Homo sapiens: one gene and its partners. The protein of the gene in region 1 interacts with the protein of each later gene in a biochemical or structural test. Each region holds a gene or a part of one and is shown in the gene's direction. Other genes may lie near its edges.

Region 1 (3,278 bases):
CATGTAAAATTTTGACTGACAAAAGGAACCTACTACTTTAAACAATGGTTTTATTAGAACATGGTCAGCAAATGTATCATGCCTCTGCAAATTTTAGTGATGTTTAGAGATGCCTCTAAGTTTGCAGTTGGAGGTTTTTGTGCTTTTAGAAATGTGATGTGATCCTTAGGGTACCTGTTTTGTCTGTTGTGTTGAGAACCAAACCCATTGAACAACTTAAAAAATTGGGAAATAATTGTCAGCTATTTTGTATACATACACACAAAATATATACATTATATAATATGTATATTATGTATTATATAATATATATAAAATGTTTTGTATATTTTTTACATATCTGTTAAAAAATGTACTTTGTTTTTTTGTTTGTTTGTTTTGAGATGGAGTCTCTCTCTGTCACCCATGCTGGAGTACAGTGGCGCGATCTCAGCCCGCTGCAACCTCTGCCTCCTGGGTTCATGCGACTCTCGTGCCTCAGCCTCCCAAGTAATTGAGATTACAGTTGGGTGCCACCATGTCCGGCTAATTTTTGTATTTTTAGTACAGATGGGGTTTCACCATGTTGGCCAGGGTGGTCTCGAGCTCCTGACCTCAAGTGATCCACCCACCTTGGCCTCCCAAAGTGCTGAGATTACAAGCATGAGCCACTGCACCTAGCCAAGAAGTGTACTTTTTGTTTAATGATTACCGAAAGAAGTTCTCCTTTAGAAGCATTGACTTATACAAATTCCCACATTCACCTCAGTTAATATCTTCCTTTAGGATTCTTGGATAATAGAAATTCTTCCTAAAACATACTCAGAGATGCAGCTCATTATTAAATTAAGGTAACCACATTCTGTATTGTTGCTAGCTTTTCATGTAAACATTATTCACACTTTAAAGGATTAGGTGTTTAAATATTGATGGTCATCTTTGTCTGGTGTTAGGTGCCAGACACCTGGCTGCTGAATTTGTTTTTTCCCTCACCAAAGTTGTCATTTGGAACGCCAGCTGGGAGGACTTTGAAGGAAAAGAAAATATATGACAATAGGCAGTATTGACACATTGTTTAAAATCTTTTTCACAATAAAACAAAACACCCAAGTTGTCATATTGTTAAAGTTGGAAATCTATAGGTTTTTCTTTTTTTTTTTTTTTTTCTTTTTTTGATTCTAGATTTCATGGCCAGAACACAAATTCACGTTTCTTGTCCTAGGACAGGGAATTGGTGACAAAATGGATTATACTATTTTAATAACAGTGGAAACTTTCAAACTACATGTGTTTACACCAAATTCTTGGCTTCTCAAAGCAACATGAATTAAAGCACAGTATCAAGGTGATGCCCTATGACAATGTTTCAACACACACTTGAAATTTTAAGAGAAATTTCAGTTCTTCACTCAGGAAATGTGCTGTATTCTCTAATGTACTTTCATGCTGCAGCATGGAGCCTCTTTAAACAGCTTTGGGATAATTATAGCAGCACAAGAAGTTTATCTGCAAAATATTTCAATCATCTTGGTACAATAGATGACTTTTACATCATGTATATTAGCCTTATGTGATATAAAATGTATTACTTAGAAAATATACTTAAAGGAATTATTTCTATTATAAATGGTATTCATGATTGACTACTTAATTAATGCACATTAGATTTCTCCTAATATAAAATGAAATGATGCAGTTTAGTTCATTTCAGTCTAGATGCCCGTACTAACAAGAATACAGTTAGATAAGTTCATTGTATCTCAATGAAGAATCATTGAACTTGAAACCCAAGTCCCAAATGAATCTGCAGGAATGAGCAGTGCTCTGCGGGGGCAAACAGCCCCAGAGGTCCCAGGGTTCTTCCTAGGTAATGAGAGTATAGCTGTGATCAAGGAAATGTGAACTTCTCTTTTGGGAAGATCTGCGATAATTAGCTTTATGGAAGCGAAAATGGTTTAGAGTGGTGTTGAGCAATTGTTAAGAGTTGAAATAGACACACACATGCATGTGCTTTTGGGAAACATGATGTGCCAACGTATTAATGTGCCTGAGGGCTCCTTGTGGATAGGTCAGTGTCCACATTTCAGCACTCAGGGCATGACTGTACACAACCTAAGACTATATATATATTTTTTCATTTTCAAATGTACAAATACCCATAGAGGTGATGTGCCTGGATAAGTCATTTAACCATAGCTTAGTGAAATAAATGTGATGGCCCTAAAAAGTAGAATTTTCACTTTCATTACAGCCATGCCTTTATTATGCAGTCTCCATTTCTGTGTGATATTTGGTAATATCACATGTCAAATACATCAGGACTTTGTTTATTTTGGCTAACTCTAACTATACAATTGCTGAACATAGCTTTCTGAAATAGAAATTATAAGAGAAACCCAGTATGCCTACAGCATTAGTAGCCTAAATCCTAGATTCTAGAATCCAATAAATTTATAGTAGTTCTTAAGAAGTTTCCTTTAAAGCAACAAATAGATTATTAAGGCAAATTTAGATAATAACCCAAGTTAGCAATAAAACCATGTGACATTATAGATTATGTCCAGATACTAACTGCTTTGACCATAATATCCCAATGACAATAAAAAATGATCCTTGGTTTAAAAATTATTAAATGGTACTTATTTTTATGTATAACAAGTGTCATGATCCCAGTGACTGGAGTTGATTTTCAAGGTGGATAGCCATAGAGTTAGGTAAAATTATTTTGAATTGGCAAACTAAAGATAACAATTTTGAAAATTGCTCAAAATAATAATCTACTTAAATTTTACTTTTGTAACTTCTGAAACAGTACTCCATTATCCAGAAATCACAGGCTAGAGAGCCAATAATTTTGTAGTAATGAACCTTAACTAAACATGAAAAAGGCAATCCTGAAGTTTTATGTACATAGATAGCAGTTCATTTTTTAAATGTTCGAGTTGCCATATATTATGTATGTGTGTGTGTGTGTGTATATATATATATATATATATATATATATATATATATATACAGCTATGTGTATAATATGTAAAATTCTCCCAAAATGTATGAATATAAAACTGAATGTATTCATTCATGTAATTATAACTAGCATTCTAAAATTTTTAATTACTCCCATTTCTTTGACATTCTGAAACTTTTTTTAGATTGTTTTAAAACGCTCTGGTTCCACCTTGAAGCTGATAATCTTTCTGAAAAATATATGAGAAACTCAGAAAGTAGTCATTATTATAATAAATTTAATTTTCTTAGGGAAAAAGGGCAGGGTTCTGGATGGAAACCCCTTTGGAAAT
Region 2 (3,757 bases), on another chromosome or scaffold:
AGGTGGCTCACACCTGTAATCCCAGCACTTTGGGAGGCCGAGGCCGGCAGATCGCAAGGTCAGAAGTTCAAGATCAGCCTGAGCAACATGGTAAAACCCTGTCTCTACTAAAAACACAAAATTAGCCAGGCACTTGCCTGTTATCCCAGCTACTCGGGAGGCTGAGGCAGGATAATCGCTTGAACCCAGGAGGCGGAGGTTGCAGTGAGCCAAGATCACGTCACGGCACTCCAGCCTGGGTGACAGAGTTTGGTGAGCTTGGATAAGTCATTTCTCCTCTCTGAGCCTCAGTCTCTTCAGCCGTAAGTGTGAAAAATAATAAAACCTCCCCCAAAGATTGTCATGGGGATTATGACAAAGCAGCTAATGGCATTTTGAAAAGTGCTGTAGCAACAAAATATGGAACTATCACCAACAAAATCCCCCCTTTAGGTAATAAAAACCTTTTACCGGGAGATGGGCCTTGGGTTTTCAGACCCACTACTGACTTGACAGGCAGAGGATGCAGTTCCAAATGTGGATTTGGAGCTGGGCTTTGGGCATCTCTCTCCCCCCTCAGCTCCTGTTTCCTTACTCATTAAGTGGGGGGTCATTCCTGCTGGACGCCTGTCTAGGGTCCTTGTTTGGGGGCGGTCAAAGGAGATCAGAGAGCACAGACGGGAATGTGCTTTGCAAACATGAAAGAGGGCTAGAAAGGAGGAGGAGGGACTTGGGGAAGGTGGCCAGCCAAGGGGGGAAAGGAACCTTTGGCCTGAGCACTGGTCTTAGTCTGGGCTGGAGAGTTTAGTTTGCCTGCTGGGGAGAGGGGAGGTGTCTCCTATGAGGTAGGGTTTCACCTTGAGACATAAGGTGTCAGAGAAGAAACTCTGATGGAAGAAGCTCTAAGAGGCTCCAAGTGTGGGCAGAGAAGGAAGCGGGCCAAAGGACCTGGGCTTGGCCCTGGAATCAGCCCCTCATCACTGTCTTCCCAGGCAATCCCATCTGCCATGAAAGGACCTTGGCAGAGGCAGCTCCAGTGGGCTCCAGGGTCACCTTCATGACAAGACTTGCCGCCACAGGCTCACCTGCACATCTATAGCACCAATGCCCCCACCCTTAGGCTGCAGATTCCTGGTCTCGCCCCCAGGGAAAGCAGGCTTGACACCACCCAGCACCCAGACCAAGACAGGTCTCAGCCTGCTACAGAGGGAAAAAAGCAAGTTGACTAGAACCCTGTTCTGCCTTCCCATTCAGACTGTCAGAGCATCTGCCACAGCCCAGGGAGGGGGCTGATCCCACATACGGAGCCCCCACCCCAGGCCTTTGGAGGAAGCCTGGGGATCAGGAGGCCTTGTTTGGAGTCCTGGCTCTGCCCAAGCTCACAGTGCTTCCACAGCCAATCACCTAACCGGGCTGGGACTGTTTGACCATCTGTAAAATAAAAGGAGCTGGACTTGGTTCACAGGTCTCCACAGCGCAGGACTGTGATCAGGAAAGAGTTAATGGAGGCCAGGATCTGCCTCAGGAAGGCGAGGGTTAATTTGGGGGGCGGGGGGTGGAGGCTTTCTCTGCTTTTCCTGTGGAGAGTGAGGTTTGGCTGCCACCAAAGTTACTTCTAGTCCTTGCTGTCCACTCCTGCCCTCAGTCTGGACCTGCCCAAGGACCCCTGCAATTAGGCCTCCCATGCAGAGGTGAGTGTACCCTGAGCCCAGGGCTGGGGTAAGAAGGAACCCAGGGGCCTGAGGGCAGGGAGACTGGTGCCAAACTAGTGAGCCTAAAAGATGGCCCATGCCCAGAGCAGAAGCCTTGGGCAGAGTTGAGACCACAAGTTTCAGGACTGGGAGAAGGCAGGCAAAGGAATGGAGGGCCCGAGGCTGCCTGCCAGGCTTCTAGGGCGGGATGTCTGAGGTCCGGCCTCCAGGCTAGCCCAGAAGGCAGGGAAGAGGCTGTGGATGACAGACTATTTTGGTCCTTGTGATTAGGAACTTTTTATAGTCTCCCTGCTCAGGGCTGGGGAGAAGAGGAGAGGACAGAGGGCACCCATGGGGTCAGACAAGCAGTGCCTTCCTGGGACCTTGGAATCTGACCCACTGCCAAGGAGACTCCCTGGGAGACAGGGAGGGGGACACTGCCAGACTCTCCTTGGTTCCCAGGCCTCAACTACCTATGAGCAGACTGACTACACACTAGATGCTGGGTGCAGGGGTGGGCTGGACCTGGCAGGGTCTCTGCCCCAAGGCCTCTCACAGACTCCTTCCCCACTTCCCTGGCTAATTCTGTTCCTTTGTTGTCCCCAGATCCAAGGTCCCTCAGCCTCCAGGACTCAGGGGGAGTAGGGGAAGATAGGGGTGGGGTCGGGTGTGCAGGGCCATGTGGGTGGCCCATTCTGTTACTGCCAAGAGAACTGTCAGCTCTTGATTTACAACCCCTCCTCGCTCCTTGCCCCAGCAGAAGGGAGGTGGAAAAGGGTCATGAGGTCTTAGGATAAAAAAGGGACAAGGACCCTGGGGGCAAATTTCTGGGAGTGGGAGCGCAGGTTATTAGGAAGAATTAGTGGAAGGAACTTTTTAGTGAGGCAAGGGGCCCATTTCTAACGGAAATTGCTTGGTTTTATAGCAGCGGGAATACACGCAAAATATCAGTGAGTTCTTTTTTTTTTTCTTTTTTTTTTTTTGAGACGGAGTCTCGCTCTGTTGCCCAGGCTGGAGTGCAGTGGTGCGCGATCTCGGCTCACTGCAACCTCCGCCTCCCAGCTTCAAGCGATTCTCCTGCCTCAGCTTCCCAAGTAGCTGGGATTACAGGTGTGCGCCACCCCGCCTGGCTAATTTTTGTATTTTCAGTAGAGATGGGGTTTTGCCATGTTGGCCAGGCTGGTCTGGAACTCCTCACCTAAGGTAATTCACCCACCTCGGCCTCCCAAAGTGCTGGGATTACAGGCATGAGCCATCGCGCCTGGCCTCAGTGGGAAGTTCTGATAGGCAAGTGAGAGATCCAATCTGAACTGCAAGGCAAGAAACCTGGGTGACAAAGCAAGACTCCGTCTAAAGAAAAAAAAAAAAGAAACCTGGGTTCCAGTCCTGGCTCCTAACTCTCAATAGGACCTGAGCAAGCCCCCCTCCTCTCCAAGCCAGTTTCCTCTTCATGAAATGGAAATGCAAAGGTTAAACAAGGTGATGTTTACAGTTTGGCATTCTGCGATCCCCTTGGCAGGGGCAGAGTAGCTGGCAGTAGCTGATAGGGCCTGGGGACCACCTCCCTCTCCTGCCCCGATGGCCCTGCTGGGCCTGGGCAGGGCAGTTGGCTGCAATTACTGGAGGCTCCTACCCTGTGGTTATATCCCCGACCTCGGTGTTTGGGGGCGGGAAGGGTGGGCCCTGCTGGAGCCAGCCTGTGGCTGGGAGCCTTCTTGTCTTGGGCTCAAAGCTGCTGGGTTGGGAAGAGGTATTTTTTCCGGTTGAAGCCACTTTCAGGAATTGGGCCGGGACCAGCCCTGTTTCCTTTTCCAAGTGTCCTGCTTGCTAAGGCCTGCTTGCACGACCCTGTGGCCAGATTGGGGCACCTTCAAAGGGGAATATGTTTCTGAGTGGCCAGAGAGACCCCACTCAATGTCTCTGAAGGACAGGGAAAGGGGATGGCCTGAGCCTCTGCTCCCTGGATGTGGCACCGGCTAACCTGGATGGGAGAGGGTGGCTGACTGATCCTATACTGAGGAATGCCGGCAGGAGAGGACCAGGGGCATTTCCTACCCTTCCCCTGACCTTCCTCTCTCCCTGCAGGT
Region 3 (3,142 bases), on another chromosome or scaffold:
CTCCTGGTCTCAAGCAATCCTCCCACTTCAACCTCCTAAAGTGCTGAGATTACAGGCGTAAGCCACTGCCCTCAGCCCTCAAAGCAGTATTAAAGCTAGTCTAGACTATATTATGGTACAGAAAGAACAAGAAGTTGATTGAGTCAAGCATTTGATTGATTTATTGCTCGATTTTATATTGGCAACCATAAGGGTTGCTGTTAATTGTTACTAGTATCAAAGTTTGGAAAATTCTGCCCAGTTATTGTTCAATCTTTGAAGACTGAGGAACAAGCCATGTTCCTCTTAAGCATTTAATGACGTTCTTGCAATTTTATTATTTTCTTTCCTTTAATCCTTCTCCAAATATACATTTTTTGCCTCTTCCTTTTTAGCCTTCATCTACTCCTTGCAGATTGCTTTGTGGCAAGGATTGCTTGTTTCAACTAGGCTGTCTTTCCTTTGGCCTAAGAGTCCACAGGCAAACCTGAGCTGTGCCCACTTGCTAGGCTTGCTATAGGGACCTGAATTTGCAAAGGAAGGGGAACAGTAGAGAATAAATAATGGGAGACAGTGAGCCTATGGCTATGTCTTTTCAGATGCCTTCTGCCTGGTTTGTTTTAGATTGCCATTGCCTCAGTCCCCTCTGTGGGATAGGCCAAGACTTGTGTGCTGTCTTGACCCATGTGGCAGCTACTTAATTCCCACTGTGGGTCTCAGCTCTCGTGTGCTGGGGCAGCCAAGAAGGGAGGCAGTTAAGAAGTTAGGGTGCTTAGCAGTGTTCTAAGTTTAGCCCGCTAAGGAAGCATTTCAGATAGTTCTGTTCTCCTTTTTTGTGTGGAAAATAAATAGCTGTCCAAGCCAGGCACGGTGCCTCACGCCTGTAATCCCTTTGGGAAGCTGAGGTAGGCAGATCACGAGGTCAGGAGTTCGAGATCAGCCTGGCCAGCGTGGTGAAACCCCGTCGCTACTAAAAAGACAGAAATTTGGCCGGGCATGGTGGGGCGTGCCTGTAATCCCAGCTACTTGGGAGGCTGAGGCAGAAGAATTGCTTGAACCCGGGAGGTGGAGGTCTTTGGGCTTGTATGTTGATGGTGATATTTGTAGAGCATTAACTAAGTTCTAGTCACTGTTCTAAAAATTTTACATCTATGCACTCATCTAATCCTCATAACATTTCTGGGGTTTAGGCTCTATTATTGTCTTCATCCTACAGATGTGGGAATCCTAGAGTATAAATCCTTGCCTAAACAGCAAGTACGTTTTCACAAACCCAAATAATCTTATTAAAATAATTGTTTAAATAAAAGTATATTTTATTGTTTTTCTTGTTTTTTAAAAGAAAGCTTGTTGGTACTACTAGATTATTTTTTGAGGGCATAGTATTCTCAATATCCTCCTTTTATACAGCAAAAATATTTTAAATGGATGAGATGGAATGGTAGTACTAGAAAGAAAGGTAAAAAATTTAATGACAAATCTCAACACCTAGAATTAAATTGCTAGCTTCACTGGGGTTTCCTAATAATAAAAACTTTTTTTTTTTTTTTTTAATCTCACAGCAAACTTTGAAACAAAAATGGGTGGAGTACAGATCTCTGCAGTTACAGGAACATCGTCTGCTTCATGGTAAATGCAATTTCCTGTTCAGAAACCACACTAACATTACTTCTTTCAGTATTTCTGCCTCAAAGTTGGTTTAAGATTATCATCATTATAAGAAAAATTTGTCTAGTGCTGGTCAAGGAAATGGGTCTGTGTTTCTTTGGCATGAGCTTTGGAATGGCTGTATTTGGAGGAGGGGTAAGGCAAGTCAGATCCACTACTGCGTATCATGACGCAGATGCACATGCACACAGATGCACATGCTCGAAAACAGGCACCTGGAGATTTTAGAAAATCATTGGGGAAGATTGCCTAACTTTCCTTCTACTTCAGTGAATGAATTACATTTCTGAAAACAATCACGGCTAAGGGGCTGTATAGTTTTTAGAAGCTATTAAAGCTGGAATGGTTGCACACTTATTGGGTAGAGCTCCTGTCTTTTGTTTAAATTGCATAAGTTGCATTTATGCAGAGAAATTCTTTTTCATGGCCCCCAAGACAAAGACATAAATGCGTAAGATGAATACAACAGTAAATGCATAGCTCTTGCCATTGAGTGCATTTTTAAGGGAAGGGTTGAGTTTAAAATGTGTTAATTCGCTATTTGTTGTATGATAGATGTAACCAAAGGAATGAACTTTTGTGTACAAATAATTCACTGAAACCACTACGTGGGTGTGAAATATAGCTTATCTCTTCTTTAAATAGCACCAAGCTTAAGTCTGTAACCTAGAATATCTGTTAAAAGTGATAATCAATTTGTTTACCAAAAAAGATAACAATTTAATCCTTAACTAGTCACTAATTTATGGCTTAGAGTTCTGGTATGAACTTCTGTTTTTTTTTTTTTAAATTGAAGTGTTTGAAACTTATGTACAAGTTACTTCTCTTTTTTATGTCTTCATTTAATATTTTTAAAAAATTCATAATAGTTCTTTTGGGTAGTGAAGTTTGTTAGAGAGGCAGAAATATTTAATACAAAAACTTCTTTATGGCCTTGTAAATTCAGCCACCTCCTTGCTTTCTTTAGACATGAGGGCTTTTTAGCCTCATTTCCACTTCTGGAGCATCCTGAATGGCCCAGTGAATATAAATTCTTGCTGTTCTATAGAAACAGCCTTGTATAGACAACATTGTTAGGTCAGGATCCTCATAAAGTCATTGTTGTACATATTTTTTGAGCAATTGAAGGAGTTCTGCTTTTTCTAGATGTATAGTAAACATCCAGGGCATGTGATTCTATAAGGCAATTGCTCTCCAATCAAAAGAAATTCATCACTTATTGCAAGATGAAATGAAGTAGGTTGTATTAGCAAAAAGGAAAGCATTATGACTAGTCACCATGGGGCTGGCTGTACTCAACCTTGCAAATCATCTGAAAGAACAGTTTCTTTTTATATTGTCAACCGAGGACAAAAGACAGCAGCAGTGGAGATAATCAGTACAAAATAAAACCATTTTAGAGTGTACAGTATTCTATTATTTTTTCTGAAGCATAGTCACTTACTGATTACGTTTTTCCAAGGCTGGTATTACAAGTTCTCTCTCTCTCTCTCTC

What was found.
Region 2: the proteins of PALS2 (region 1) and FAM110D interact in a test that uses a peptide from one of them, tested with the Homo sapiens proteins (one large-scale study listed by IntAct).
Region 3: the proteins of PALS2 (region 1) and CYTIP interact in a test that uses a peptide from one of them, tested with the Homo sapiens proteins (one large-scale study listed by IntAct).

Annotation. Positions count from the first base shown.
Region 1 is NC_000007.14:24,688,452-24,691,729, forward strand, and holds part of PALS2 (protein PALS2), read left to right. Parts: 3' UTR 1-3,278.
Region 2 is NC_000001.11:26,157,457-26,161,213, forward strand, and holds the start of FAM110D (protein FAM110D), read left to right. Parts: upstream 1-1,622; 5' UTR 1,623-1,670; intron 1,671-3,755; 5' UTR 3,756-3,757.
Region 3 is NC_000002.12:157,416,989-157,420,130, reverse strand, and holds part of CYTIP (cytohesin-interacting protein), read left to right. Parts: intron 1-1,541; coding exon 1,542-1,608; intron 1,609-3,142. UniProt on the Homo sapiens protein: By its binding to cytohesin-1 (CYTH1), it modifies activation of ARFs by CYTH1 and its precise function may be to sequester CYTH1 in the cytoplasm.